4 linked regions of the Homo sapiens genome follow. The main gene of each other region encodes a partner of the protein of the gene in region 3 in a complex. Each region holds a gene or a part of one and is shown on either strand. Other genes may lie near its edges.

What was found.
Region 1: DRC8 (region 3) and DRC3 share a complex: the UniProt entries of both Homo sapiens proteins name them as parts of the nexin-dynein regulatory complex.
Region 2: DRC8 (region 3) and DRC4 share a complex: the UniProt entries of both Homo sapiens proteins name them as parts of the nexin-dynein regulatory complex.
Region 4: DRC8 (region 3) and DRC7 share a complex: the UniProt entries of both Homo sapiens proteins name them as parts of the nexin-dynein regulatory complex.

Annotation. Positions count from the first base shown.
Region 1 is NC_000017.11:17,975,848-17,982,869, reverse strand, and holds part of DRC3 (dynein regulatory complex subunit 3), read right to left. Parts: intron 5,315-7,022; exon of another isoform or gene 5,289-5,314; 5' UTR 5,272-5,288; coding exon 5,112-5,271; exon of another isoform or gene 4,894-5,111; intron 1,882-4,893; exon of another isoform or gene 1,639-1,881; coding exon of another isoform or gene 1,579-1,638; exon of another isoform or gene 1,210-1,578; intron 1-1,209. UniProt on the Homo sapiens protein: Component of the nexin-dynein regulatory complex (N-DRC) a key regulator of ciliary/flagellar motility which maintains the alignment and integrity of the distal axoneme and regulates microtubule sliding in motile axonemes.
Region 2 is NC_000016.10:90,032,674-90,039,695, reverse strand, and holds part of DRC4 (dynein regulatory complex subunit 4), read right to left. Parts: intron 6,979-7,022; coding exon 6,772-6,978; intron 4,064-6,771; coding exon 4,009-4,063; intron 3,316-4,008; coding exon 3,110-3,315; intron 2,465-3,109; coding exon 2,297-2,464; intron 1,935-2,296; coding exon 1,848-1,934; intron 1-1,847. UniProt on the Homo sapiens protein: Component of the nexin-dynein regulatory complex (N-DRC), a key regulator of ciliary/flagellar motility which maintains the alignment and integrity of the distal axoneme and regulates microtubule sliding in motile axonemes.
Region 3 is NC_000001.11:244,964,710-244,972,694, reverse strand, and holds the start of DRC8 (dynein regulatory complex protein 8), read right to left. Parts: upstream 3,014-7,985; 5' UTR 2,710-3,013; coding exon of another isoform or gene 2,443-2,709; intron 2,441-2,442; coding exon of another isoform or gene 2,371-2,440; intron 2,370-2,370; coding exon of another isoform or gene 2,277-2,369; coding exon 2,252-2,276; coding exon of another isoform or gene 2,158-2,251; exon of another isoform or gene 2,125-2,157; intron 1,884-2,124; exon of another isoform or gene 1,826-1,883; intron 187-1,825; exon of another isoform or gene 1-186. UniProt on the Homo sapiens protein: Component of the nexin-dynein regulatory complex (N-DRC), a key regulator of ciliary/flagellar motility which maintains the alignment and integrity of the distal axoneme and regulates microtubule sliding in motile axonemes.
Region 4 is NC_000016.10:57,725,784-57,732,305, reverse strand, and holds the end of DRC7 (dynein regulatory complex subunit 7), read right to left. Parts: intron 6,239-6,522; coding exon 6,023-6,238; intron 5,475-6,022; coding exon 5,364-5,474; intron 5,008-5,363; coding exon 4,897-5,007; intron 3,917-4,896; coding exon 3,722-3,916; intron 1,376-3,721; coding exon 1,236-1,375; intron 1,142-1,235; coding exon 1,048-1,141; 3' UTR 501-1,047; downstream 1-500. UniProt on the Homo sapiens protein: Component of the nexin-dynein regulatory complex (N-DRC) a key regulator of ciliary/flagellar motility which maintains the alignment and integrity of the distal axoneme and regulates microtubule sliding in motile axonemes.

The sequences.
Region 1 (7,022 bases), on a different chromosome or scaffold from region 3:
GGGCGCAGTGGCTCACGCCTGTAATCACAGCACTTTGGGAGGCCGAGGCGGGCGGATCACAAGTTCAAGAGATCGAGACCATCCTGGCCAATGTGGTGAAACCCTGTCTCTGCTAAAGATACAAAAAATTGGCTGGGCGTGGTGGTGCACGTCTGTAGTCCCAGCTACTTGGGAGGCTGAGGCAGGAGAATCGCTTGAACCAGGGAGGCAGAGGTTGCAGTGAGCCAAGATCGCGCCACTGCAATCCAGGTGACAGAGCGAGACTCCATCTCAAAAAAAAAAAAAAAAAGAATATGCTCATTAAAAGAACTGAAATAATACAGAAGTGAAAGAAGTTTTCAAAATTGGTGCTGTGGGCCAGGCGTGGTGGCTCACGCCTGTAATCCCAGCACTTTGGGAGGCCAAGGTAGGCAGATCAGGAGGTGAGGAGGTGGAGACCATCCTGGCTAACACAGTGAAACCCTGTCTCTCCTAAAAACACAAAAAATTAGCTGGGCGTGGTGGCGGGCACCTGTAGTCCCAGCTACTCGGGAGGCTGAGGCAGGAGAATGGCGTGAACCCAGGAGGCGGAGCTTTCAGTGAGCCGAGATTGCGCCACTGAACTCCAGCCTGGGCGACAGAGCGAGACTCCATCTCAAAAAAAAAAAAAAAGAGATGGAGACCATCCTGGCCAACATGGTGAAACCCTGTCTCTACTAAAAATACAAAAATTAGTTGGGCGTGGTGACACGCGCTTGTAATCCCAGCTACTCTGGAGGCTGAGGCAGGAGAATCGCTTGAACCCAGGAGGCAGAGGTTGCAGTGAGCCTAGATTACGCCACTGAACTCCAGCCTGGATGACAGAGTGAGACTGTTTAAAAAAAAAAAAAAATTTGGTCCTGTGGCTGGGCATGGTGGCACACACCTGTAATCCCAGCACTTTGGGAGGCCAAGGCCGGTGGATTGCTTGAGACCAGGAGTTTGAGACCAGCCTGGCCAACATGGAAAAACACTGTCTCTATAATAAAAATACAAAAATTAGCTGGTGTCCCTGTAGTCCCAGCTACTCAGGAGGCTGAGGCAGCAGAATCACTTGAACCCAGGAGGCAGAGATGCAGTGAGCCAAGATCATGCCACTGCACTGCAGCCTGGGTGACAAAGCAAGACTCTGTCTCTAAATAAATAAATAAATAAAAAAAAATAAAAATCGGTGCTGAGGCATTGTGCCTCAGAGGAGCCTGAGCCAGCCAGTCTGCTGCATCCCTGCCACGTCCCCCACTGTGTCCCCTGCCAGGACCGACTGACCTGAGCCGGGCTGCCATGGACCACACGCCCCTGCTGTGGGAGTGGCTGCCCACCTACAACCTAGGGGCCGGCCAGGGCAACTATGCATGCAGCTTGCATGGCTACAGCGTCATCCCTGCTGCCCATCCCTTGCTGCTGCCCGCCCTCCCCTTACCTCATCACAGGGATACCCAACCACCACCCCAGGGTCTACAATGACCACAGCTGGACTATCACTTGGTACCCTGCCAATGCCATCGCCATCATGAGAGGCTGTCCCGTCTGCAGGGATAGGGTGCTGGAGGACTGCTTCACCTTCCTGGGAATCCTCCTGGCCATCATCCTGTTCCCCTTTGGGTTCATCTGCTGTTTTTCCTGGAGGAAGCAAAGATGCCCCAACTGCAGAGCAGCCTTTGCTTAAAGGGAACTTACACCTGGCTTTTCTACACCCAGCTCTCTTTTTCTAATGTACAATAGTTTTATTTGATTAAGCTTCAGGACTGTTTTGTAAAGTGAGGTGCGACAGATGTGGCACGCGGGAGCCAGGGTTTCCTGGAGCGTGGAGAGGCAGCGCTGCTGCTCCTGAGGTTAATGAGAACTCAGTAAAGCACTGCTTTTATTTTTTGCAGTCTTCAATTTGAGAAAGGTGAAATATAATGTTTTCAATAAATGAGATTCATGCCAAAAAAATAAAAAATACAAATACAAATTAGTGGCTAGGTGCGGTGGCTCACACGTGTAATCCCAGCACTTTGGGAGGCCGAGGTGGGCAGATCACGAGGTCAAGAGATCGAGACCATCTTGGCCAACATGGTGAAACCCCGTCTCTACTAAAAATACAGAAATTCACTGGGTGTGGTGGTGTACACCTGTAGTCCCAGCTACTCTGGAGGCTGAGGCAAGAGAATCACTTGAACCCGGGAGGTGAAGGTTGCAGTGAGCCTAGATCGTGCCACTGCACTCTAGCCTGGCGACAGAGTGAGACTCCATCTCAAAAAAAAAAAAAAAAAAATGCTGGGCGCAGTGGCTCATACCTATAATCCTAGCACTTTGGGAGCCTGAGGCAGGCAGATTGCCTGAGCTCAGGAGTTCGAAACCAGCCTGGGCAACATGGTGAAACCCCATCTCTACTAAAATAAAAAAAATTAGCCAGGCGTGGCCGCATATGCCTGTAGTTCCAGCTACTTGGGAGGCTGAGGCAGGAGAATTGCTTGAACTCAGGAGGCAGAGGTTGCAGTGAGCTGAGATCGCACTACTGCACTCTAGCACTCCAGCCTGGGCTGGGCGGCAGAGCGAGACTCCGTCTCTACAAAAAAAAAAACAACAACAATAAAACAAAACAAACAAACAAACAAAAAAAAAACATACAGTCCAGCTGCCGTTTCAATATTCATTCAGAGGGGCAGAGCCTGCCTGTGAGGTTGTGAAAGTCCCAGTGGGAAAGTGGGGAACCCCTCCTAGCTCCCCTCCCTGCACAAAGTTCTGGGGAGGACAGGGTTCTCTGACCCAGGTCCAGAGGGGCACACCGCCCTTCCCCTAGAGCTGGATTGCTGCCCTGCACCTCTCCTGGGTTCCCAGGGCTGGGTGGGACTGCCCTTCCCTTAGAGCTGGATTGCTGCCTTGCACCTATCCTGGGTTCCCAGGGCTGGGTGGGACTGCCCTTCCCCTAGAGCCGGATTGCTGCGTAGTGCCTCTCCTGGGTTCCCAGGGCTGGGTGGGACTGGTGCCTGTTCTTCAGCTCCCTGTTTGTGGCCAGATTTCCCAGAATGATACTGGCCACAATTCCCACCTGTGCTTCCAGGGTGGGGCCAGTTCTGCCCCAGCCTCCCGGCCACCTCCCAACCCTGGGTTGGATTTTCCAGGTGCCTTTTCTGGCCCTGATCTGACAGCCCCCCAGCAGTAGCACTCCCCCTGTGGCTCCTGCACACCGGGTGCTCTGCCACACACGCCAGCATGCCGGCTTTTTCCCAGGTGTCAGCAGTTCAGGAGGAAAAGCCAAAACAACACAACAAATCAGGATGTACTTGGCAGTTAGCTCTAAATGAGTTACCAGCATGACAGGACTGCCAAAAAAAGCCGATTTAATCTTCAACAAAGACACTAAATCTGCCCCTGTGGCCACCACCTCGGCCAGGCCTGTGGTCATCACTCACTGGAGTACAGCAGTGGCCATCTTACTAGATCCTTGCCTCGGCCCCTGGCCTCCACGGTCTATCCTCACGCAGCCAGCAGGGTCCTGTGAAATCCTAAGTCCCATCCTGTCCCACTTCTGCTCAGGACCCTCCCGGGGTCCCCACTTCACTCACTGTAAGAGCCAAACACCTTCCACTGTCTCCAAGCTGACACCATGACCTCCCCGACCTGTCTCTCCACAGTGGCTTCCTCAGCAGAGATGATAAGGCGGGGTCCAGCCTGCCCCAGGCCCTTTGCACTGGCTGCTCCACTTTCCCTGGTGGATCTGCACAGCAGCTCTCTCCCTTGCCTACCTCAAGTTGTTGCTAAATTGTTACCTTCTTGGTGAAGCCCCTGGCCACTCTATAAAACACTGTACTCCACCCCCAACTTCCCTTTTCTCCTCTCCTTCCTTTTTTCCTCCACACCACATATTACGTTTAGCAAATAGTATTATTTTCCTTCTTCATTTTATTTAATTGTCCCCCATCAAGTTGAATGTCAGCTCCATGAGGACAAGGCTTTTGTCTTTTTTTGCTCATAGTTGAATCCCTAGTGCTCAGAACAGTACCTGGCATGTAACAGGCAGGTGTTCAATACTGGCTGCATGAACCTCAGGTTGGGGAGGGGAAACAGAGGGCAAGCGGTCAGCTGCAAAAGCCCCCTCCTGCCGCACCTGTTCTGTGCCCCTTTACCCCTCCCGGGGCTGTGGCTCAGGGCCCTCCCTGATTGGGTGGTCAGCCCTGGGAGCCTATGGGCTTCGTGGGGCTGTGCCTGGGCCATGCCTGACTTGCCCACTGTCGTGTCCCTGGCTCTGGCAGCAGGGCTGGACTGAGGCAGGGTCTCAATACCTCCTTGTTGTTGACTGGATGCCGGCCAGCCTAGGGGCCCCAAGACAGAGCACGAATGTGAATCAGACCAGGTCACTCTGCTGTGGCCTTGCCTGCACATGATACAAAGGGGGGTCTCAGGATCCCTGCCCACCTCTCTCACTGCCCTCGTACTGCCTCTGCCTTCACTTACTGTGCCTGGCTTGCTGTGTGAGCCAGGCACTGTGCACGTGCTGTCTCACCTTGTCCCCCCACCCAATGCTCGAGACAGGGATGACAGCCATCCCATTCCACAGACGGGACATTGAAGCAGTGAGGGTCCGCCTGGTCCTGAGCCACATCTTCTCACTCCTGATGTGCCTCCCTGCCTCAAGGGCCTGTGCTCCTCCTGCTACCAGCCTGTCTTTGGTCACCCCTTCCCTGAAGCTGCCATCCCAGTGCCCGCTCTCATTCTCCCACACTTCCTACCCTCTGCTTCTGGCTACGTGGGACTTCCTAGGCTCTGCCTGCCAGGGACCCCCACTCCAAGGACACCCATGTGGAGTTGTGTGATGGAAACAGCATAGTCTTGGGGGCTCACTTAGATTTGGCGTGGGACAATTTTATCTTGTTTTCTATTCTTATTCAGAATCCGGAGCGTCGTGGATATTCAAATGATGAAGACACTAAGTATGACGCTTTACAAACATCTGTGCTGCTCCTATGCCTTGTAACCCAGGTAGGCCCTAATGCTGATGTGGGAACCTCGACCGTGGACTTTGCATGGAATCCTGGGGCTTGAAGATGGAGCAGAGAAAGCCAGGGAGGGCCCACCCTGGCCACCACCCCTGAACCTTGGATACATACTCCGAAAGTCCAGCTGCAGGGACAGGACATCCTTGAAGAGGATGCCCTCCTGCTTGGCCAGCTGCCCGGCCTCCTCCTGGGGGCCCTGGTCCCCGACGGCCAGCTTGAGCATGTCATCGTCCATCACCCTCGGCTCCATCGAGTTGCACGGCTGGTTCATCTTCCCCCACGTTTTCCCTAAAAAACACCGCATTCTTCCTTCACGGCCTGCTTCTTTCTCTGTTTGAGGGCAGGGTCTGGCTGAGGTTTCCCCCTGTAGTGTCTTGTGGCCACTGGCACTCTGAGGAATGCCCCACGCCCAGCCCTGGGTCTGCTGCATCTCGGGGTTTGTATACTTACGCCAAGGCTGCTCCAGGGCTTCCTGGCAACCACCTGGGCCTGTCCACAGGGTTTCATCCCTTGACCCTACAGCCACAGCTGGGACCCTCGCTGGACCCACTGGACTGGTGTCCACACTGGTCTCCCTAGCCTGTGATCTTGACTCATCTTATGACTGTGGCCCTGTGTCAGGCCTCTGACTTTGTATGCCCATCCTCACTTGGGCTTGTGGGTACCAACCACTGACTGTGCTCCCTGGGCAGCCCCAGCCAGGCCTGTCAGCCTGCAGCTCCTCTTCCTTGAGCACCTCACCCCCTCCAGGCCGTCATGTGTGTATGCCCCACACCACACCACAAGCTTCTCCTGGTGCAGAGGGAGCCCCTGACCCAAGCTGCCCATTCACGTCCTCCCCGTGGGAGATGTGAAGTTGAGGCTGTGGAATGAGAGTGCCCATCGGAGCTGGCTGCTTGAGCTGGGGAGGAATAGGGAGTGTGGGCTGGCTGGGTACATAGTTAAGCAGAGAGCAAGAGGGGGAGGAGGCAGATGCACAGAGAAAAGCAGAGATGGGAACCTGGGAATCAGAAAACAAAAGACAAAGGACAGACAGATCGACACAGACAGAGGCTGCCTCCTTCTTGCTGGCTTTCCAGTCCCTAATGTCCCTAGGTCCAGGCCTCATGAGAGTTTCCTGTTTCTCACATGAAATCCTCTTCTACTTAAGCTAGCTCCAGTAGGTTATTTTTTAATTTAATTAATTTATTTTTTTTGAGACAGAGTCTCGCTCTGTCGCCCAGGCTGGGGCACAATGGCGCGGTCTCAGCTCACTGCAACGCCCGGATTCAAGCGATTCTCCTGCCTCAGCCTCCTGAGTAACTAGGATTTCAGGTGTCCACCACTACGCCTGGCTAATTTTTTGTATTTTTAGTAGAAACGGGGTTTCACCATGTTGGCCAGGCTGGTCTCAAACTCCTGACCTCAGGTGATCCACCTGCCTCCGCTTCCCAAAGTGCTGGGATTACAGGCATGAGCCACCGTGCCCAGCCTCCAGTAGATTCTGTTGCTAATGGTCCAGAGGGATTTGACTGAGACACCACAGCACAGGGGGGATCTGTAGATTTGGTCAGTCACAATGTGAGGCTGACTCCAGGCTGCCGTTCGTGGCTGGACCACATTCTCATCCTTATCAACCCTCTTGGTGAGGACATCCAGGAGGGATATTTTCCCCCACTTTCCACCCCTGATTCTTGCCTCCCTGCTGGCCCTACTTCCTATCTTTGTCTACATGCCTTCCCAGCATCTGGGCCTCCCTGAACCTCCTGTCCTTCTGCCCTGCTGGTCCCTGATGCTAGGCAGCCCCTGTGCTCTGTTTTTCATTCCACTGGGCACTGCTGGAGAAACTCCTGGTGCAGGGCTGATGGTGTCTGCTGAAAAGCCAGGTTGGGCCATACAATCCTGTTACCTGGTCTTAGAGACTTCCCTCTAAGACTGCCCTCCTCTTGCCTCCCTGACCATCCACTTGGATGCAGCTTCTGCAAATATGCATCCTCTGCCCTGAACTGTCCCTCATCAAATGTCCCAATGAGCTCTTGTGCA
Region 2 (7,022 bases), on a different chromosome or scaffold from region 3:
AACACCCTGAGCAGCGTGTGGTGGCTCACGCCTGTAATCCCAGCACTTTGGGAGGGTGAGGTGGGTGGATCGCCTGAGGTCAGGAGTTCGAGACCAGCCTGGCCAACAGAGTGAAACCCTGTCTCTATCAGAAATACCAAACATTAGCCGGGCGTGGTGGCAGGCGCCTGTAATCCCAGCTACTCGGGAGGCCGAGGCAGGAGTATCACTTGAACCCAGGAGGTGGAGGTTGCAGTGAGCCGAGATCGTGCCATTGTACTCCAGCCTGGGCAACAAGAGCGAAACTCCATCTCAAAAATAAATAAATAAATAAATAAATAAATAAATAAATAAATAACTGCCTTGGTCTCTAAATTTTGCTGATAAATTTGAGCTCTCGGTTCTCTAGGAAGAGACACCAGCTTGGACACTGTCAGGAACCACATTCAAATGGAAGAAAATGTGACAGAAAACAAGGCTCCAACCCAGGCACGTCTCTGCTGTCCTCTTCCCAATAATGTCCACCTCAAAACCCACAGGGAGAAGGAAGGGCCCCTTGTCTAACACAGCAGTCCTCAGGATCTCACTGACTACCTTGCAGGTGCCCTTCCCTTAGGTGCCAAGAGTTGGCACAGCCTAGCAATGCACGTCGTGCAGGACCTGAGGTGTCTCTGAAGGTGGGGCTAGATCTGACAGACAGATGGGATATTTCTGAGAAGCGAATCCCACTACAACGGTTTGTGTTCAAAAATTTCAATTAGGTTAGAGAACAAAACAGCACATATAACTGCGGCTCAAGATAAGATGCCCTGGCCCCGCACACCACAGACAAAGCCTTGAGGGGCCCATGCTGCAGGGATTGGTCCTTGGCCAGAACTTTGAAACTGAACAGAGGCAAGGAGCGTCTTTAAGGGACAGAGACAGGACCGAGCACCCCTACCACTCACTGCGAATCTTGGAAGTGCCCACGAAATGAGATGTTTTCCACCCAGTCACTTCTGCAAAGGTTTAAACCTGTCAGATCTGGTGCAGGTGAGGATGGAAACGGCCCCTCCGCACCCTGGCAGGTGTGTGACTCAGAGCAGCCCTCTGGACAGATGATCAGGGTCCTCAGAACAGAACCCTCAGACTCAACAATCCCACTGCTAGGAACTGGCTTTCCTAAGAAGCAATCTCACACAAGTGCACAAAGACAAATTTAAAAGGATTGAGGCAGCAATGCTTATAGCAGCAGAGCATTAGAAACAGACGGGAGTCGGCTAAATGATCAAACGTTCACAAAACGCAGCACCAAGCAGCTGTGAAAAGGATGAGACCGCTTCCTATGTGCAGCCTGATACACTGTGAGATTAAAAAGCAAATTGTGCTTATGGCCTGATCCCGTGTTCGTAACATACAAAGTCACATCCACACGAGAGCATGCAGGAAACCTGGAAGGGAGCCCATAAAACTCGCCAGTGTGAGGACCAGCACTGAGCAGCCGGAGACTCATCTTCACTTACACTTAAGAGCCTCCCTCATGTGCTTTCAGAGGTGAGCTCTCGAGGGGACGAAAGTCATGTGTGATCCGTTCCCCATCAAGACCCCAGGCCTTCTGCAGAATATGCATGCAGAACAGGCCACAGGTTTTTGCCTCTTAGAAGCTGCGGAATGAGTTACAGGGAACAGGGCCTCCAGCTTCAGAACCCAGAAACCTGGCCAAGGCATCTGAAGCTGGTCCAGGGGCCACAAGGAGAGCCCCGTCCCTGGCTAGCAGGGGTGCCATCCCCACTGCAGGGCCAGCCTAGTGCCCGCTCACCTTGGTGAACTTGGTGAACCGTTGCTCTAACACCCACCGCCAACTGCAGGGCCAGCGTGGTGCCACTCACCTTGGTGAATCGCTGCTCTAACACTTCATGCTCCCACTGCAGGTCTTTCAGCTCTTTCTCCCTGACTTTCAAACGGGCTTTTGTGCACTGGAGGAAAAACAGGGAGTAGGGGACAGAAAGTATTCAAGATTCACAGTCATCCAAGTAACACGGGCTCCTGGGAGATGGCAAGGCCAAAAATAATCGCCAGAAAGACCTGGTTCCAGGACACAAGCAGCTGAGTCTCACCAAGGCCGGCCGGTAGCACGTGGTGAAGATGAGGGCCTTGTCTCCAAAACACCCCCAGACTTTACTTTCCCCAGGAGAACACGAGGCAGAGAAAGGAGAAATGCAGGCCTCCCCGTCTCCCTTCCTGCCCTAAGGGCCAAGCCCCTCCCTGTGATGCTCCTCCCTCCTGAGCCTAGGCAAGCTCATGCCAAGGAGGGAGAGGAATCCAGCGGGAAACTCACAAGCAGGATCTGCTTGTCCCTCTCGTAGTTTGCGAGCTGTTTCTGCATCTCGCTCATCTCCTCCCGAGCCTTCTGGAGAGGGTCTGCCAGGCGCTTGTTCTGCCCAGACACCTCTGCCATCTCCCTCTCCAGGTGGTCCTCCTTCTTCCGCATGTCCTCCATCTGCTCCTGCAGGCACAAGCACAGGCCCGGCAGGGGCTCAGCAGGCAGAACCAAAGGGGCTGTGGCCTGCATGGTGAGAGCTGGGTGCTCTCCTGCCCATCACCAGCTGCTGCCAGCCTCAGGCATGCTGGCACCTAGACGTCTTCTATGTATAAACAGTATTTCTGCAGCTTCAACTTATTCTGAGTTTTCTGGGAATGCAGCTTCCATGCAGACTGAAGGACTATACTTTGTTCAAGATTCCACCAAGGGCCGTTGTCTACTGTAGAAAATCCTGTCACTGCCAGCATGCAGTGACGATGACACCTATCCACCTGTCGCAGGCAGTGACTATGACACCTATCCACTCCAGCCACATCACGGCCCTCACTGCGGTTCCATCTGAGCTTTTACAAACCAGAACACACTTCATTACTTCCCCCTCTGCACTACGGTGAGGGCAATATCCTGACTGCTTTTAACAATAGGTAGAGATAGGTTACGTTATTTAGGAATTTCAGTTAAGGATATGAGAGGGGCATTGTCAAACAATCTTATAAAAAGTACTGGGTGTGTTGGGGTGGAGAGCTGGGGTCTGGATCCCCAGGACTCTGCAGCCCACATTCTAGGACAGGCAGAGTGTGCCTCCCCAGCCCAGCCCACGCACAGCACCTTGAGGGAGTTGATGAGGGCCAGGTTGTTGAGGGTGATGTCGTTGTAGTAGTTCTTAATGTCGGTGAAGGCCTCCTCGTGGCGCTGCATCAGCGTGTGGATCTGGCCATTCTTCCTCTCCTCCACTTCGTGGAGCTCAGTCTTTCTCCGCAAGTCGAGTTCGTCCCTCAGCATCTTCATCTTCTTATCATACTTGGCCTCAATTTCTGAAAGGCAGCAGCAAACAGCAGCTTAGCAGAGGAAGACGTGGTGCCCCTACGGCTACAGAACATGGAGCCTGTAAACGGGCCCAAAACGCCCACTGTGGTCAGAACAGCCTTGCAGGCAAAAGCTCTGCAAGAGAAGAACAAAGGGGTTTAGACTGAGTTTTTCTGCTGATGCTCACACTCAGCACACACACCACTGTCGGCCTGCCTTTGCCAGTGACAGGCATTGCTAATCGCTCCCTGCACTGGGGGTGCCAACAGCTGAATGTCAGCTGACCCCAGTGAGCAGTAACCGAGGCCTGTGTGGCCACCCAGCCACAATCAGCCTTTATTAGTAAAACACAGAGACTTCTGAAATTGGAGCCTTCTCAGACCAGGAGCCATGGAGAAGACTATTTTAAGAAGGCTGCCCACGGCACTGAATAGCTACCACCTGCTGATAACTACTGATTTTAGCTAGGAGTGGGAATGTGTGTGGTAATCACAGCCTCCCAAACTCACATGGAAATAGGTTGTTCTGGGATTCTGAGTGGGTCCACTGGCCTTGGAAACTTCCATGTTCTTTCTCTTGCATGCCTTGGCTGTTTTAATCCAGTTTTTGCTCCCTGAGTTAACAAGCTCTGGAGGTAAATTCCTCTCTGATGGGGCGGGGGTGTCTCTGGCACCTACACAATGAGCACACGGGAAACTGACCTCGAACTTGCCTCTCAAAATCATTCCGCATCCTGGTGATCTCCTCGGTGTGTTTCTGCACAGGGAGAAGCGGCCATTACTACACAGCCGGACACAGAGGGAAGCCCGCTCCCTTCAGGCTGACCCTGTTCCTCATGGTTTTGGTCACCTCCATATTCCCTAACTCACCTCCCTCAACTAAAGTCACCTCTAAGCTTGAGAGAGAACATGAACAGACGTCGTGAGCACTGAACCCGCTTGGTTCCATCGCCAAACCATCCCACAGCCTGAAGAGCAGCAGCCACATCCACACAGAGCTGTGGGATCTTTCCAGGTGCCGTGTGTAGCTTCCAACCTGCTGCACTGCTGCCTGAAGCAGCATATTAAAAGGATTCATTCCTGTCATCCCAGCACGCTGGAGGCCAAGGCAGGAGGATCACTTGAGGTCAAGAGTTCAAGGGCAGCCTAAGCAACATAGCAAGATCTTCTACAGAAAATTTAAAGATTGCCGGGCACAGTGGCTCACGCCTGTAATCCCAGCACTTTGGGAGGCCGAGCTGGACAGACCACCTGAGGTCGGGAGTTTAAGACCAGCCTGACCAACATGGAGAAACCCCGTCTCTACTAAAAATACAAAATTAGCCGGGCATGGTGGCACATGCCTGTAATCCCAGCTAGTCGAGAGGCTGAGGCAGGAGAATAGCTTGAACCCGGGAGGCAGAGGTTGTGGTGAACTGAGATTGTGCCACTGCACTCCAGCCTGGGCAACAAGAGCAAAACTCCATCTCAAAAAAAAAAAAAAAAAAAAAAAAAAAAGATTAGGTGGGTGTGGTGGCTCATATCTATAGTTCCAGCTACTTGGGAGGCTAAGGCAGAAGGATCACTTGAGACTAGAAGTTCGAGGCTGCAGTGAGCTATGATTGTACCATTGCACTGCAGCCCGGGAGACAGAGTGAGACCTCATCTCTAAAAATAAATAAATATATAGTTTTAATGAACAATTATTATATATTTAAATAAACATTATATATTTAAAATTTGCATAAAAAAATAAATTATTTTTAAAGCAGTAATTTTTCTTTTTTTTGAGACAGACTCTCACACTGTCGCCCAGGCTGGAGTGCAGTGGCACAATCTCGGCTCACCGCAACCTCCGTCTCCCAGGTTCAAGTGATTCTTCTGCCTCAGCGTCCCGAGTAGCTGGGATTATAGGTGTGCGCCACCACGCCCGGCTAATTTTTGTATTTTTAGTAGAGACGGGGTTTCACCACGTTGGTCAGGCTGGTCTCAAACTCCTGACCTCGTGATACACCCTCCTCGGCCTCCCAAAGTGCTGGGATTACAGGCGTGAGCCACCGCACCCGGCCTAAAGCCATATTTTTACCCAACAGGAAACTCTGATTATGTAACAATATCATATCCAGGACCTGGGTTAAGACCAGCTAATTCTGGAGGGCTCAAGACTTCGGCACTCTCAGGCTTTGCTGCGAAGTCAGCAACGTCACCAAGTTTCTTCCAGATTCAGTGGAGGCTGGACTGCTTCCAGGCGTGAGGCAAATGTGTTCAGAAAGTCTCCTCAACCCAGCAGCCAGGAAGAACCTTAGTGAGACACATCTCTCCTCTGCCCAAGTTCTCAGAGGGCAACAGACTCCACCAGGGTCAAAGTCCCAGTCCCCACCACGGCTTTCGAGGCGGACGAGCTCTGACCCGTCTCCAGTCCCCACCACGGCTTTCGAGGCGGACAAGCTCTGACCCTCTCCCACAGTCTCCTCCTGGTCACTCTGAGCTTTCCCACTGGCCCATCCCGTCTCCCAGCCGGTCAACTGCTTGTACAAAACCGCACCCCACCTCTCCCCACTTCGATCCTTCTATGGCACTCTTCCCCACCAGATACTCTGTTGTATCTGGCACGTTTATTTTGTCTTCCAACTCACCTGTTGTCTCTCCTTTCTAGACCAACAGCCCCAGTCGGGCAGGCGTTTTGTCAGAGATCAGATCAGGACCTAGCAGCTAATGGACACTCAGCAAATGATCTCTTTCCTTTTTGTTTTGTCTCACTCTGTCACCTAGGCTGGAATGCAGTGGCACAATCCTAGCTCACCACAGCCTTGACTTCCTGAGCTCAAGGGATCCTCCCGCCTCAGCCTCCCAAGTAGCTGAAACTATCGGCATGTGCCACTACACCAGCTAATGTTTTCTTTTAAATTTTTTAGACATGGGGTTCAACTATTTCACCCAAGCTAGTCTCAAACTATTGGCCTCAACCACTTCTCCCACCTGACCCTCCCAAGTGCTGGGATTTTGGGTGTGAGCCACTGAACCAGGTGCACAGATGAATTTTAATGGTGCCCTGGAAACCCCCAGCCTCAAAAGTAAAAATCAGACCAGCTTGTGTGACAAACTGTCACAGTGCCCAGGAGTCAACACACTGGATATTTTAATGGTTGGTTTGCATTCTACTAAATGCATATGATGCTATTCCCTAGGAAAAGTCTCTGGGTGTCAGGTGTCAGCAGCACATGAAAGATCCTAAGCTGGATTTTTTCTCTTCGGTGACGTCAATTTTTTGCTCAGGTCTGAGACAGAATTGTGTACTTGGTCCCAAAATGGGGTTTGTTTGGATGCATGCTTTAAAAAATTTTTTTTCAACAAATTGCAAAAATGCAGAAAGTCTTATGCAGAAATATGAATTCCCAGTTGCTGTTGAATAAACAGGAGTTCATGCAGCACTAGGCTTGCCGTCCCAACAACCTGTCAGCCTCCAGGTGCCCCCGCCACACCTACCAGCCGCAGGTTCTTCACCACCACCTCACTGGCCAGCTCCTGCTCCTTGAGCTCCACCTTCAGTGCCCGCATGTCCTTGCGCAGCACACTCTCCTGTATGCGGTGCTCTTTCTGTGCCAGCTTCATGACTACAGTGCCCTCAGCCTTCATCTCTGTCAGGTTGTTCTGGTGCTCATATAGCAGGTGCTTCACTTTCTGCTTGTACACCTGCAGGGCAATGGGAGTACCATCTGCTCACCTGCACCACACCT
Region 3 (7,985 bases):
CAGGGCGTGCCACCACGCCCAGCTAATTTTTGTATTTTTAGTAGAGACGGGGTTCACCATGTTGGCCAGGATGGTCTCGATCTCTTGACCTCGTGATCCGCCCGCCTCAGCCTCCCAAAGTGCTGGGATTGCAGGCGTGAGCCACCGCGCCCGGCCTTCTCGAAAGTTAATGTACATACAAATCACCTACAAACATGTTAAAATGAAGACTGATTCATTATTAGGTCGGTGGCAGCCAGTGATGTCCAGGCTGCTGTCCACGGACTACAAGGATACACACCTAGCACAGTGGTTGGCACCCAGACTACTCAGCCCAGTTAACTATTTCCTCCCATTTGTAAATTTCTCATCTCCCTTACTCATCTCACCTTCCTTGGAAGCAAAGACAATGTCTTTCATTTTCGTATCTTTCAAAGTTCTAAGTAGAATGCCTTATCTACATAATGGCATTGAATATATGTATTCTGAATGAATGGCATCCAGCTTTTAACAGTCATTACTTCTATGAGTTATCGACAAAATTGTTTCTCTGAATTTACTTTAAATGGAAAAAAATTGTTCAAAAGCTGAAAAATCAGGAAAGCTCTCAGTTTTTAAAAAACGAGAAATACTGTATTTGTACCATACTCCAGTGCGTTTTTTCTCATGCTGACCTAACCAAGTCTTTTTTAAGAAAATAAATATCCATAATTACCTTGCTAGTTTATCTCCTAATGGCTTTTTTTTTTTTTTTTTTGGTAAAGAACAAAAATAAGCCATCCATTTTTCTGGGAAAGTTTTAAAATTATCCTTTTCTTTGTATGTAAGGGCATCTTCGTAAAGCTAATACCTACAAAATAATCCTGGCTTCTCAGATTAATATTACATAAAAATCACGGTATCCTTGTTATCAATAGAGAGATCGTTGGCAGTTTCATGTGTTTCTTCGCCGATTTTCTGTGATCACCGGAACAAGTGACTAAATATCTCAGGGTTCGTTTCTTCCCTTGTAAATATTAGCTGTTAACCTGACCACACTTGGTTCTATGCTGAGAAAAATGGTTTGAGAGGGTGTTTTGAGCACTCCAGAAAGAAAACAAAGGACGAATATTATTTTCACTTCCTACTTGTTTACCTTTACTGTTTCATGGCTTTTTGGATATTTTTGGGTGACTGCCAACTATCAAACACAATTATTTTTTAGTACCTAAGGGCATGGTAACAAAGGATCGGGTTTTAATCATACCATGAACTGAAAACAACATGAACGGTCTTGCAAATAAACGTAATCACTTTTTGGCTTCTCCGCACAGACAACACATCGATGCCTCCGAACTGGCGACCTTAAGCCTCGAAGCGCAGTCCCGCCTCTGCAGGCGGCCACCGCGCGGGGCTGGGTGGTCCCCTGGGAGAGGCCCGGCCGGCGCACAGCGGTTCCAAGATCTCAACCAGGTTTTGGTTTTTCGTCGTTATTAAAATTGCTGTTTGGGTGTGTGTCTTTTTTTTTTTTTAAGACAAGACACTAGGCCAATTGCGCGGCGCTAGCCGGCGGCGGGGCAGGCATTTCGGAGGACCGGGAAGCTCGGAGGCAGCGGCTGTGACCTCCAGACCGTCCTCCTGCGTCCTCATTAAGGAGGCAAAATGGTGGCCGCGAACGCCATCAGGCTGCGCCAGCGCGGGGTTTCGGCGCAAACAGAGGATCCCGTCAGATTCAGGCGGCCAGAACTCCTCCTCACCCAGGCCACCCCCCGGGGCCCACAGCCTGGACAGCTACGGGCGTGGCGCCTGCGGCACCGAGACCCCAGGCGAGAGTGTGGAGGCGGCGGCGGCTTCCCCGCGACCGTGAACAACGACGCCATTATCAGCACCCCCTGCCGGCGCCTCCGGCGCAGCCCGCGCAGGATGCAAGGCCCGGCCTCCGAGGGAGGGGGAAGGAGGACGGGGCGGGAGGAGGGGAAGAGGGTGAAGAGGGCGGGAGGAGAAAGAAGAAGGCGGGAGGAGGGGAGAGAGAAGAGGGAGGGAAGAGGGGAGAGAGGCGGGGCGGGGCGGGGGAGAGAGGCGGGGCGGGGCGGGGCGGAGCGGCGGGCCGGGCGGGCTACGGGGACGGGGGCAGGGCGACTGCTGCTGCCGGGTGGCCCCCTCCTCAGGCCGCCCTTTCCCTGCGGGTGGGAACTCCAGATGGACGAGGGCCCACCCCACCCGGCGCTTCCCCGTGCAGCCCGGGGTCGCGGCGGGCGGCGAGGGCAGCGGCTCCCCGGCTCCCCTACCTTACCTTCCCTGTCCTTCTCGTCCGCCATCTTGCTGCGGAGCCGGTCGCCTGGGAGATGCCTAACGATAACCTCGGCCGCGGTGTCCCGGCCTGCTCAGCGCCCCGCGGCGAGCCTGGCCTGGAGGAGGGGCCGCTCTGAATCCCGGGGGAGGAAGACCCTTGGGCGGGGCGGGGCGGGGAGGAGGCTCCGAGCGCGCGCCCTGTCCCCGTTTCGCGCCACGACCCTCGCGCTGGGGGAAGACCAGAGGCCCCGTCTGCCACCCGGCCCCCGGCCTTGTCCCTCCAGACCCGAGGCCGGAGCCGGACTTGTCCCGGGCCTAGCATGTTGCTTCATCACACGGTCCCCAACCCCTCCTTTCCCTTATTTCTCATCCATTTGGGGACAGCACGCGCGCGCACACACCCCTCGCCCCCTCCTGTCCTGTTTGTGCGACGTGGCGTTGCTCGATTTTTGTTGTTAACTGCAGATTTTGAAAAGCGCCGGAGAGCTAGGTGAAGAGCTGGGCTCCCAAGGGGGTGATAGAACCAGCCCGCGGCCCGGCCTCCTCCTCCCGCTTCCCATTCGCAGCCCGCCTCCCGCCGGGAAGCGGCCCGGCTGCTGCAGAACGGCCGCGCCTGCCCTCCCGGTTTCTCCCGTCCAGTCTTCACCGTCCTTTCCCAGAGAAAGCGACAGCACAGCCTATGACAACCGAAGCTAAAACGGAAAAACTGGGCCGGGCGCAAGAGGAAACCAGAGCCATTCGACTATTGCTAGAGGAGAGGAATAGCTGCAGGAAAACATGCGCAAAATAGCACAAACATTGCGTCGTCAAGGCTGCAATGTCTAATACAAAATAGAAGGTTCTCATAGCAACAAAAACGTGCCCATGTTGTGCTCAGTATTACATGCGTTAAAATGTTCTTAGTTGTGAAATTTGACATGACCGCTAGTTAAAGTTACAATGGAAGTTTTAAATCCCGCTTTCCGAAAACTTTGCAGCTATAGCATGAAGTTAAATTTTTGTCTTATTTTCTGGATAAGTTTACTATACTGGAACATAGTAAAGCTCTTTTTATAAAGAGCTTTGAATAAAATACCTAATGATGTGGTTGAAACGAACACCTATTTTCAAAACTAATCTTAAGTGGTATTTCAGTGCATATGTTATGTAAAAGCAATTTATAAACTAAATTTTAAGAGCCTTCAAAATACAAGGTACTCGTATTTAATGACTTAACAGTTTTAATGCTTTTATTGTTTCTATAATCTCTCAGGAAATCCTAAAACTGACTATATTTTTCTTTATTAAAATAACTTTTTCTGTAGAAGATACCCATTTGGCGCTGTGATCAGCATTCTACTTGAAATTGAATATAAACAACTGAATCATTACAAAATGGCTCATGTTAGAAGATACTTAAAACGAATACAATCTTGTACAGTAAATGTTTAACACCCCAAAATAACGAAAAGTAATTATTAGCATTCATTTATATCTAAATCTCAGTCAATATGATCTAAATATTTGTGTTTAAAGACTCCCCCTTTCCATATAGATAATGAAGGGCTTTGAAATAAGTGTAGGAAACCCTAAGTTTGGTCTCAGGCTTCCTATTCATTCACTATGCTTTTTCGTGTGCTGTTTACAGTTTCCTTTTTCTGGAATGCCTTTCCCTGCTTTTTTCCCCCGCCAACATTTCAGCTTCCCACAGACACACATTTGTGCCCTCCTGGTTGTCCTGCAGGATGACCTTTGTTTTTGTTTTTGTCTTTTGTTTTTCGAGACAGGGTCTCGCTCTGTCGTCCAGGATGGAGTGCAGTGGTGTGATCTCTGCTCACTGCAACTTCCGCCTCCCGGTCTCAAGTGACCCTCCCACCGCAACCTCCCAAGTAGCTGGGAGGAGCGGCGCGCGCCACCATGTCTGGCTAGTTTTTGTATTTTTTGTAGAGACAGAGTTTCCCCATGTTGCCCAGGCTGCTCTCAAACTCCTGAGCTCAAGCGATCTGCCGCCTGCCTGGCCCTCCCAAAGTTCTGGGATTACAGGTGTGAGCCACTGTGCCTGGCCAGGATGACCTTTTTGAAGTCACCTAGTCATTGAAGCTTTCCCTCTCAGCCTTTTCCTCTGTGGCCCCATGCTTATAGAGCCTCCCACATTGATTTGCAGTGCCTTCGTTCGTTCACTTTATTTCCACCTACCAAACAGTAAGATCTTGAAGACAGAAACGGCATTATTCGTTTATATATCCCCGGTATCTAGTACAATTTTTCTGTTTGCAATAATAAATGTCTTAAAACTTAAGAAAGGAGTAAGTCTTCTCAATGACTTTTTTTAAAAAAGACCCAGATTCAGCACTTATTGTATGTAAGACAGACCTTCCTTTTACATTACATTTTTCATCAGTAAAAGTACTGGGCCAGGCGCGGTGGCTCACGCATAATCTCAGCACTTTGGGAGGCTGAAGCGGGTGGATCACTTCAGGTCATGAGTTAAAGACCCACCTGGCCAACATGGTAAAACCCCATCTCTACTAAAAATAGAAAAATTAGCCGAATGTGGTGGCTCACGCCTGTAATCCCAGCTACTCGGGAGGCTGAGACAGAAGAATCGCTTGAACCCAGGAGGCAGAGGTTGCAGTGAGCCGAGATCCGCCACTGCACTCCAGCCCAGATGACAGAGCAAGACTCCATCCCCAAAAAAAGGTACTAGTATTTCATGTTAATAAAATGGAATTCTTATATAAACATATATAAATTAAAAATTATTTTAAGAGTTGAACAGATTTCTCTGCAAATCCCCCTATATTTTTATATTTTTTAAACTAACTGTATTCAGCAAAGCTTTTTATTATTTAATTTATTCCAAACCACATTAATCAGTATTTCTCTGAACTCCTACAGCACATTTAAAACAGTACTGTTTCTCTAGGTGTGGGTGAGTAAAAAAATATTTAATATATGTTAATTAACTTCCGCATCTCCTGACCCCACTAAGGTTTGAATAGGAGCCTCCCCCTTTATAAACCCTTTTTATATACCCACACTACCTAGCCTAATTGGGGCACATATTAGCTGCTTCATACATACTTTTCAACTGCCTAATTTGCTGATTAGGCATAAAAGTATATAATTCTGGAAAAGTCTCCACAAGGTGAAAATGATTATCCAAATAATAAAGGCCCACAATGCCAGTGAGTACATTATCTGCATTATGCTGATATTTGACTCCTTTCAACTCTCTTTGGTTGTAGAAACATGACCGATGATTATATTACACTTTTAACTCTTTAAATATTATTAGCTTGCTTTGGACTGTGGAAAACTAACTACAATCATTTTTATTCCTCAGAATATATTTTGCGGCCGGGCACGGTGGCTCATGCCTGTATACCCAGCACTTTGGGAGGCCGAGGTGGGCAGATCACGAGGCCAGGAGTTCGAGACCAACCTGGCCAATATGGTGTAACCCCGTCTCTACTAAAAGTACAAACATTAGGTGGGCATAGTGCTGCAAGCCTGTAGTCCTAGCTACTCAGGAGGCTGAGGCAGAAGAATCACTTGAACCCAGGAGGCAGAGGTTGCAGTGAGCCAAGATCATGGCATTGCACTCCAGCCTGGGTGACAGAGCAAGACTCCATCTTAAAAAATATATATATATATATAGATAGATAGATAGATAGATGTATATATACATATACGTATACATATACGTATATGTATACGTATACATATATGTAGAGTATATATACATCTACGTATATGTATACTCTACATATATGTGTATATATACATATATACTCTACATATATACACATATATATGTATATGGCTTCTGAGCTATAGCTTGAGTAACTTGTTAACTTGTAATACTTGAGTAACTTGTAATATTGTATGCTGCCAAAGCATTTTTTCACTTAAACATCTCATCGTGATTTTCAGAAATTTAGAATCGGAAAATCGTTTTTGATCCCACTCATGGATATATAAACTTAGGGCTAAATCAGAAAAGCAAGCACATAGTTTTAGACAATGACACTTATTTGCTTAATTACTCTATGGAGCCAGGTGGATATGTACAGGTTATGTCCTTTTGCATGCTTGAATTTATAGTGAGTTGAATCTGTTCAGACAGCCATCAGTGATGTGTCCGTGAGGAACACAGAAAATGTTTCTTTTTGTTTAAAGGAATTTATTTATTTACTTATTTTTACTTTTTTTTAATCATACTTTAAGTTCTAGGATACATGTGCACAACGTGCAGGTTTGTTACGTATGTATATATGTGCCATGTTGGTGTGCTGGACCCATTAACTCGTCGTTTACATTCGGTATATCTCCTAATGCTATCCCTCCCCTCTCCCCCCAAAAATGTTTCTTTTGAATGCAGTTGACTCAGTTACCTAAGATGTGAGTGAAGTGGAAAGGGTAAGTGGTGGGAATAATGCAAAATGATAGTTTAAAAATCCTTCATGCCCTGTTTACTTTCCTAATATGGAGATAATTGAAATCTGGACTGGGAATAATTTTTTTTTAAAAAAACTGGATTTTCCTTGGGCATTGCCATTTACTAATCTCATGATCCTGGGCGAGTCATGTAATCTCTTTAAAACTTATTAACTCATAAAAATAGAAGTAACAATGTCCAAACTTCCTATTTTAGAGTTTTCACGAGGCGCAATAGATGTAACTGAAAGCTTCGAGAAGTTTAAAGGACTTGCAAGGAAATCTACTGAAATAAGCCCCATTCCACCTGGGCAGAAGCACTCAGACGCCAAACCCCACCTTCTGTCCTGAAATTCACCTTCCACTAGGAGAGTTTGCTTTTCTAATGCTTCAAATGCACAACGGGAGATGTTCTGACTTCAGGGTTTCTACCCTTCACTGCTGTAATCTGCTGCCTGTATGACATGCGATCTGGTTTACACCGTACAGCTTATCATCTTCAGCTTGTGGCCCCTTCCTTGTTTCCACCTTGCTATTCAGGAGGGCCTGTAAGGGTATCTGGATTCCTTGAGCTGTAGATGCAGGACAGTGAGAGGGAGGGAGGTAGTTCTCTGGTCTAATTTCAGTTTCCTAACTGAGGGTACATGCCTTCCCTGAATGATCATCATCAAAAATATCCAGCCCTTCATGGAAGACACCACCCCTCCTCATAGATGAGTCCCTGAGCTTATGATCTCAAAAGGAAATCCTTATCAGAATACAACAGAATAAGGACATAGTTTCATTACAGTTATAATAATAAAAGTAGTTCTTCTTTATTAAGCTGCATGAGGTACTTTGTATTGTATTAGTATTCACGTTTCACAGATAAAAATACCACATCTTCACATAAATGGCTTGGTTAAAGCTCACAGCCAGTAAATAAGAGAGCTGGTTAGGAATCTAGTTCTGATTTCAGAGTCACTGTTTTGTCTGTCTGTTTGTTTGTTTGTTTCTTTGTTTGAGACAAAGTCTCGCTCTGTTGCCCAAGCTGGAGTGCAGTGGTGGGCTCACTGCAGCCTTGACCTCCCAGACTCAAGTCATTCTCCCACTTCAGCCTCCCAAGTAGCTGGGACTACAGGTGTGCTAACCAGGATTAACCATGGCCAGCTAATTTTTTATTTTTTGTAAAGATGGAGTCTCCCTATGTTGTCCTGACTGGTCTTGAACTCCTGACCTCAAGCAATCCTACCTCAGCCTCCTAAAGTGCTGAGATTACAGGCATGAGCCACTGGGCCCAGCCATCACTGTTTTTCTGCTTCTTTATAAAATAAGAT
Region 4 (6,522 bases), on a different chromosome or scaffold from region 3:
GGCTATTTGGGAGTTCCAGTTGTTTCTCATCGTCACCAGTACTTTTTATTTTTTTCATACCGGAGGGTGTTGTGACATTTCATTTGCCAGATGACTCATGAATTTGACAACCATTTCATGTGTTTTTTGGCTATTTTGTAAGCTAACATTTAATGACTGCTTTCTATGTGCCATTCCCAGCCTCCCTGCTTTATAATTTATGTCTTTTTTTTCTTTTTTTTGAGACAGGGTTTTGCTCTGTTGCTTAGGCTGAAGTGCAGTGGTGCAATCATGGCTCACTGCAGCCTTGACTTCCTAGGTGAAAGTGATCCTCCTACCTCAGCCTCCTGAGTAGCTGGGACTACAGGCTCATGCCACCATGCCTGGCTCTTTGTTTTTTTTTTTTTTTAGAGATGGGGTCTTATTATGTTGCCCAGGCTGGTCTCAAACTCCTGGGATCAAGTGATCCTCCTGCCTCAGCCTCCCTAAATGTTGGGATTACAGGTGTGAGCCACCACACCTGGCCATAAGTCTTATTTAATGCAACAATGCTACCCCATTCCACAGATGGGTAAGTGGTATCTGGTAAGAGGAGGAGCTGGGATTCAGTCCTCAAATTCTGGGGCATGCATCTTAGCCTTCCCCATCCCACTTGGTGAGGTGGGCCACCCTAGTCACATTGAGATATAACCAGTTGTTTGCAGATGGCTGTGGGACCATCTGCAGAGGTGCTGTGAAGACCTGACATTCCAACGGAGAGAAGGACAGGAAGCAAACGACAGGCCAAGGGGAGGAAGGGGGTGGTCCCAGGCTATAGATAACAGAAGAAGAGAAAGGCTGCTGCTGGAGCTTGTGAAGCGCAAGGCACAAATGGCAAATTAAGAGTGTGTTTATTTACAGGAAAATCATGAGAAGCAGGAACAAACAGGGCTGTAGGGGAGGTGGGCTGGCAGTGAGGCCAGGTGTCTGTGTAAACAGGCATTGGCTGGATAGAGGGAACACAGGAGCCAGGCTGCGGGAAGAGGTTTCCTTTCTCTGGCAGCTCTGGCTGAGGCCCCAGGAGGGACATCAAGCGAATATTTTCTGGAGCTCCCCCAGGCGTGGGTCCTTGTAGAGCTTTTCCTCCAGAGCCAGGTACTTCAGTGGGGCCAGTTCCTTGTGTCTGAAGTCAGAGAGGCAAGGAAAGAGGGTGAGGGGTTACAAAGCTGGTGGTCCAGCCTCCCAGTGGGTTCTCTCCACCTGCCCTGCCTGCTCACCGATTGAGGCGCTGCTCCAGGATGCGGATGCGGAACATGGCCTGAGAGCAGTAACTCAGGTACAGGTCTTCATCCTCGGGTGTCAGCGTCACCTGGTTCTCCTGGTACCACTGCTGCTTCTTTTGCAGCTCCTGGGTCTCCTGTGGTCATAGGGCAGACAGAGAAGGAGGACTGACAAGGCTGACCTTCACCCAGGCTGCAGGCTGCAATCCCATGGGTCACTAGACAGCACCATGACGGTTGGCCCCAGTGTCCCCACTCACACAAGCCACCTATCCATACCTGCCACAGAGGCAGGGGCCACAAAATATCTTGGGTGGGAGCCAGTGGGGTCATGTTTATAGGGATGTCATGTCCATGAGATCAGAACGGGGCAAGACTGAGAGAGCCATGTAGCTCTGGACAAGTTACTGGCATTTTCAGAACCTGCAATTTCTTGTCTACAAAAGGAGGGTCATTGTACTCCCCCCTCCCCTTGTAGAGCTCCTTGTGAAGATTAAGTGACATAATCTTAGTAGTGCACGGGAACTACATGGTGTGTGCCTGACCAACAAAAATGGGTCAAGGACTAGGAGTTGTTACAGTGTACCATCTCTCTGTCTACCCAGCCATCTGCCCATCTATTCCTCTGCCCATCCCTCCACCCATCCCTGCCCATCCATCCGTCCATCCGTCCTTCCACTCATCCATCCAACCGTCCATCTATCCACTCGCCCATCCAACCGTCCATCTATCCACTCGCCCATCCATCCATCCATCCATCCACCCACCCACCCATCCACCCACCCACTCATCCATCCACCCACCTACTCACTCACTCATCCACCCATCCATTCATCCATCCATCCATCCACCCATCCATCCATTCATCCATCCACTCACCCACTCTTCCATCCACCCACCTACTCATCCATCCATCCATCCATCCACCCACCCACCCACTCATCCATCCACCCACCCGCTCACTCACTCATCCACCCACCCACTCACCCATCCATCCATCATCCATCCATCCATCCATCCGTCCATCCGTCCTTCCACTCATCCATCCAACTGTCCATCTATCCACTCGCCCATCCAACCGTCCATCTATCCACTCGCCCATCCATCCATCCATCCACCCACCCACCCATCCACCCACCCACTCATCCATCCACCCACCTACTCACTCACTCATCCACCCATCCATTCATCCATCCATCCATCCACCCATCCATCCATTCGTCCATCCACCCACCCACTCGTCCATCCACCCACCTACTCACTCATCCATCCATCCACCCATCCACCCACCCACCCACTCATCCATCCACCCACCTGCTCACTCACTCATCCACCCACCCACTCACCCATCCATCCATCATCCATCCATCCATCCATCCATCCACCCACCCACCCATCCATTCATCCATCCACCCACCCACCCCATCCACCCACTCATCCATCCACCCACCCACTCACTCACCCATCCATCCATCCACCCACCCACTCATCCATCCACCCACCCACTCATCCATCCACCCACCCACTCACTCACCCATCCATCCATCCATCCACCCACCCACTCATCCATCCACCCACCCACTCATCCATCCACCCACCCACTCACTCATCCACCCACCCATCCATCCATCTATCCACCCATCCATCCATTCATCCATCCACCCGCCCACTCATCCATCCACTCACCCATTCATCCATCTGCCCACTCACTCACTCACTCATCCACCCATCCATCCATCCACCCACTCATCCATCCATCCACCCACTCACTCATCCATTCATCCATCCACCCATCCATCCATTCACCCATCTACCCACCCACTCATCTATCCACCCACCCACCCACTCATCCATTCATCCATCCACCCATCCATCCATTCATCCATCTACCCACCCACTCATCCATTCATCCATCCACCCATCCATCCATTCATCCATCTACCCACCCACTCATCCATCCACCCACTCATCCATCCACCTACCCACTCATCCATCCACTCACTCACTCACCCACCCACCCATCCATCCACCCACCTATCCATACCTATACCCATACACCTATCTATCTACTCACCCATCCATTCATCCTCCCATCCATCTATCCATCCATTTATCCACCCATCCACCCACCCATCTGTTCATGCACCCACCCATCCCTCTATCTACCCATCAATCCACCCACCCATCTATCTATTCATCCATCTACCCATGCATTCATCCACCCATCTATCCATCCATCCATCCACCCACCCACCCACCCACCTATCCATACCTACATCCATCCATCCCCCTATCGATTCATCTATCCGATAAACAAGTGTGAGGAGGAACAACTCAGTCATTTGGAAACCCCAAGCATTGACATATTCATCCCGTCATCAGGCCCTCACAAGCCTGTGAGGTAGTGGGCGGACAGCCGTGGGCCCATTTCCTGGATGCAGATGCTGAGATCCCCCCCTCCCCAACAAAGGCCCTGGTGGCACCTTCTCAAAGCGGGCCTGGATGAGGTTGGCCTTGTTGATGAGCCGCTGCTTGAAGTCGCTGAGGCACTCATCCTTGAGGCGCACCGCCTGCCAGCATGTTAGTTTCTCTCCTGGCGGGAGCTGGGCCAGGAATGGGGCCAGGTAGTCCAGCTGGGTCTCCACCTGCCGCAGGTGCTCTTCGTGCATCATGCGCTCCTGTAAAGGTGAGGGGCAGATAGCTGGATCAGCAGGAACTACAGAGACCTCTCCACCAGCTCTGCATCAGCAGTGTGCCAGCACAAAGCCAGACCTCACAGCCAGGTTCCAGTGCATGGCGCCTCCAAGATGGGCCTTAGAAGGGCCCACATGCTGGTCTCTGGACCTGTGTTTACTGGTGACAGCCAACTCTTTTTTTCTTACATGAATTTGTATCTCACTACCTGAGCTTTGGTTTCCTTCTCTGAGGATCTGAGGATCTGACAGGATCATGTCTGTAAAGCACGCAGCCTGATGCCTGACAATCCATAGTAGATGCTTATTCAGTCAACGGTAGTGGTTATTAACGATGTTAGTTAAAAACTGCCAGTAACTCCCTTCACTTTTCTTTTCCACCCTGGGGCCTGTGTCCTCCATCTGCAGACAGGGGGCAGTGAAGTTGGAGACGTGGGGGCTGACACCCTCCCCTGGGATCTGAGAACAGTCATCTGATGCCCATCCTGCCTCACGACCCCCAAACTAAAATCTCAACTTGGTTGGTGAAAGGGATTCAGAAGCCGGCCCTGAAAACCAGGCGGGGCCTTGCAACCTGAAGGTGTAACCTGAATGCCCTCCCTGTGCTGGAGAGCAGGAGAGCTCAGGCCTGGAGCCAGAGGTAGCTCACTGGGGCCACTGGCCCAGGGTGCAACCTCAGTGGGAGCCCTGAGTAGAGGTGGGCACATAATTTTAATTCTTTTCCCAACCACAGGCCTTGGCTTGGCTACAGCCCCTGGGGATGGGGGGAAACCTTGCCCAAATCCCAAGTACTCTTTGGGATGAACCATAGAAATGGTCAGTTCAGCAGCAAGGATGACCGCATGGTATCAATAACCGTATCCCCCACAGAGGGTTTCTCAGCAGAATCCCTCATGGTCCCCACCACCCTGGAGACCAGGGGGGTCTAGGAAAAGCTGGGGCCTGGAGAAGGGATTGGGACTGACCATGGCCTCCCGATATTCCTTGCTCTTCTCATTCCGCTTGGTGTCATAGATGGAGATGGTCAGTGTGTGCGCCGCCTCCTCTTCCTCTCGAAGCTTCAGAATCTCCAGCACCTGAAATGAGAAGTGTTGGAGGGCGTGATGGAGACACCCCTCCTCCACTCCTGTAACCCCAGCACTTTGGGAAGCCAAGGAGGGCAGATTGCATGAATTCAGGAGTTTGAGACCAGCCTGGGCAAAATGGAAAAACCCCATCTGTTAAAAAACAAAAACAAAAACAAGAAATTAGCCAGGCATGGTGGTGTGCGCTAGTGGTCCCAGTTACCTGGGAGGATGAGGTGGGAGGACCACCTGAGCCCGGGATGTAGAGCCATAATTGCGCCACTGCATTCCAGCCTGGGTTATAGAGCGAGACCCTATCTCAAAAACAAAGATACCGCCCACCTGCTCACTCTCCCACAGGACCCTACCTCCAGCTCTGACTCCCAGACCTGATGTCTGGACAGCTTCTCCTCCCTCTTCAGGTGCATCATGGCCTCGTACTGGTAGAGCAGCTTCTTGGTGTGCTCCATGGGCTCCACCTGGGACAACAACCACCTTAGTAACACAGAGAGGCTGCCATGATCGGGGCATAGGACCACCTGGGTTCAAATCTACCCCTGCCACTTTCCAGCTGTGTGACCTCGAGCAAGTTGCTAAACCTCTCTGAGCCTTAATTTTCTCACTTATAAAAATACAGATAATAATAAAAGAGGAACTGAAGACTCAGAAAAGCTGGGGACTGTGCCGGGAGAGTGAGCGTTTGACTAGGAAAGCTAGCCCCTCAGAGGTAGTGAGACTCTTCCCCTCCCACAGAGCCTCCCTAGGATCTGAGGTTTGCCCTGACCAGGACTGCAGAGTCGTCTTAGCCTGCTGAGTTCGCTTTTTTGGTGGAAAAGGAAGATTTTCAGAGGAGCTCAAAGAGAAGGGTCCCCAGATGGGAACTTTTGGTTTTCCCAAAGAGCAAAGATGAATTTCCTCGCCGGGATTCACCAGCGCCCATCCTGGTTCTCCCAAGTGGCTGGAATAAGACAGAGAGCCCCGGTTCCTCCTGCAGCCGACCCCTGCCCGCCGTGGCCCCCAGGCCCACCTCGAAGCTGATGCACATGTCGGGCGTCATGATGATCTTGTTGCCTTTGCTGTCCACCTCGGTGCGCCGCAGGAACTCGCGCTTGGAGGCCGTGATGTGGTCCTCACGGCAGTGGTAGCGCAGCTGGATGCGCTCCTCCGCGACCAGAAACACGCGCTCTGCCACGTCCTCCTCCGCGGGCTTCGCTGGGTTGCGGAAGAACCGCTCTGTGATTTTCTGGGAGGCCAGAACATGCAAAGGATGAGCAAAGGATGAGCGTGTGAGAGGAGATTTCTGTGCATGCCCGCAGGCAGGAGCAACGAACGTTCAGGACACTGGAGTCTGGGGTCGTTTGGCGATTCACGTGGAATAGCCCCTCCTAGCCAGACAATGGATTTCGTGGGTTCTCAGGGCCAGGCCACTCCACTCCCATATGGTGCTGGGCCCCTCCTCAGCTCCTTCAAGACTCTGCTTGCCTACCTCAAGAGATGGGGAGCTCACCACCTCTCCAGGCAGCCTAC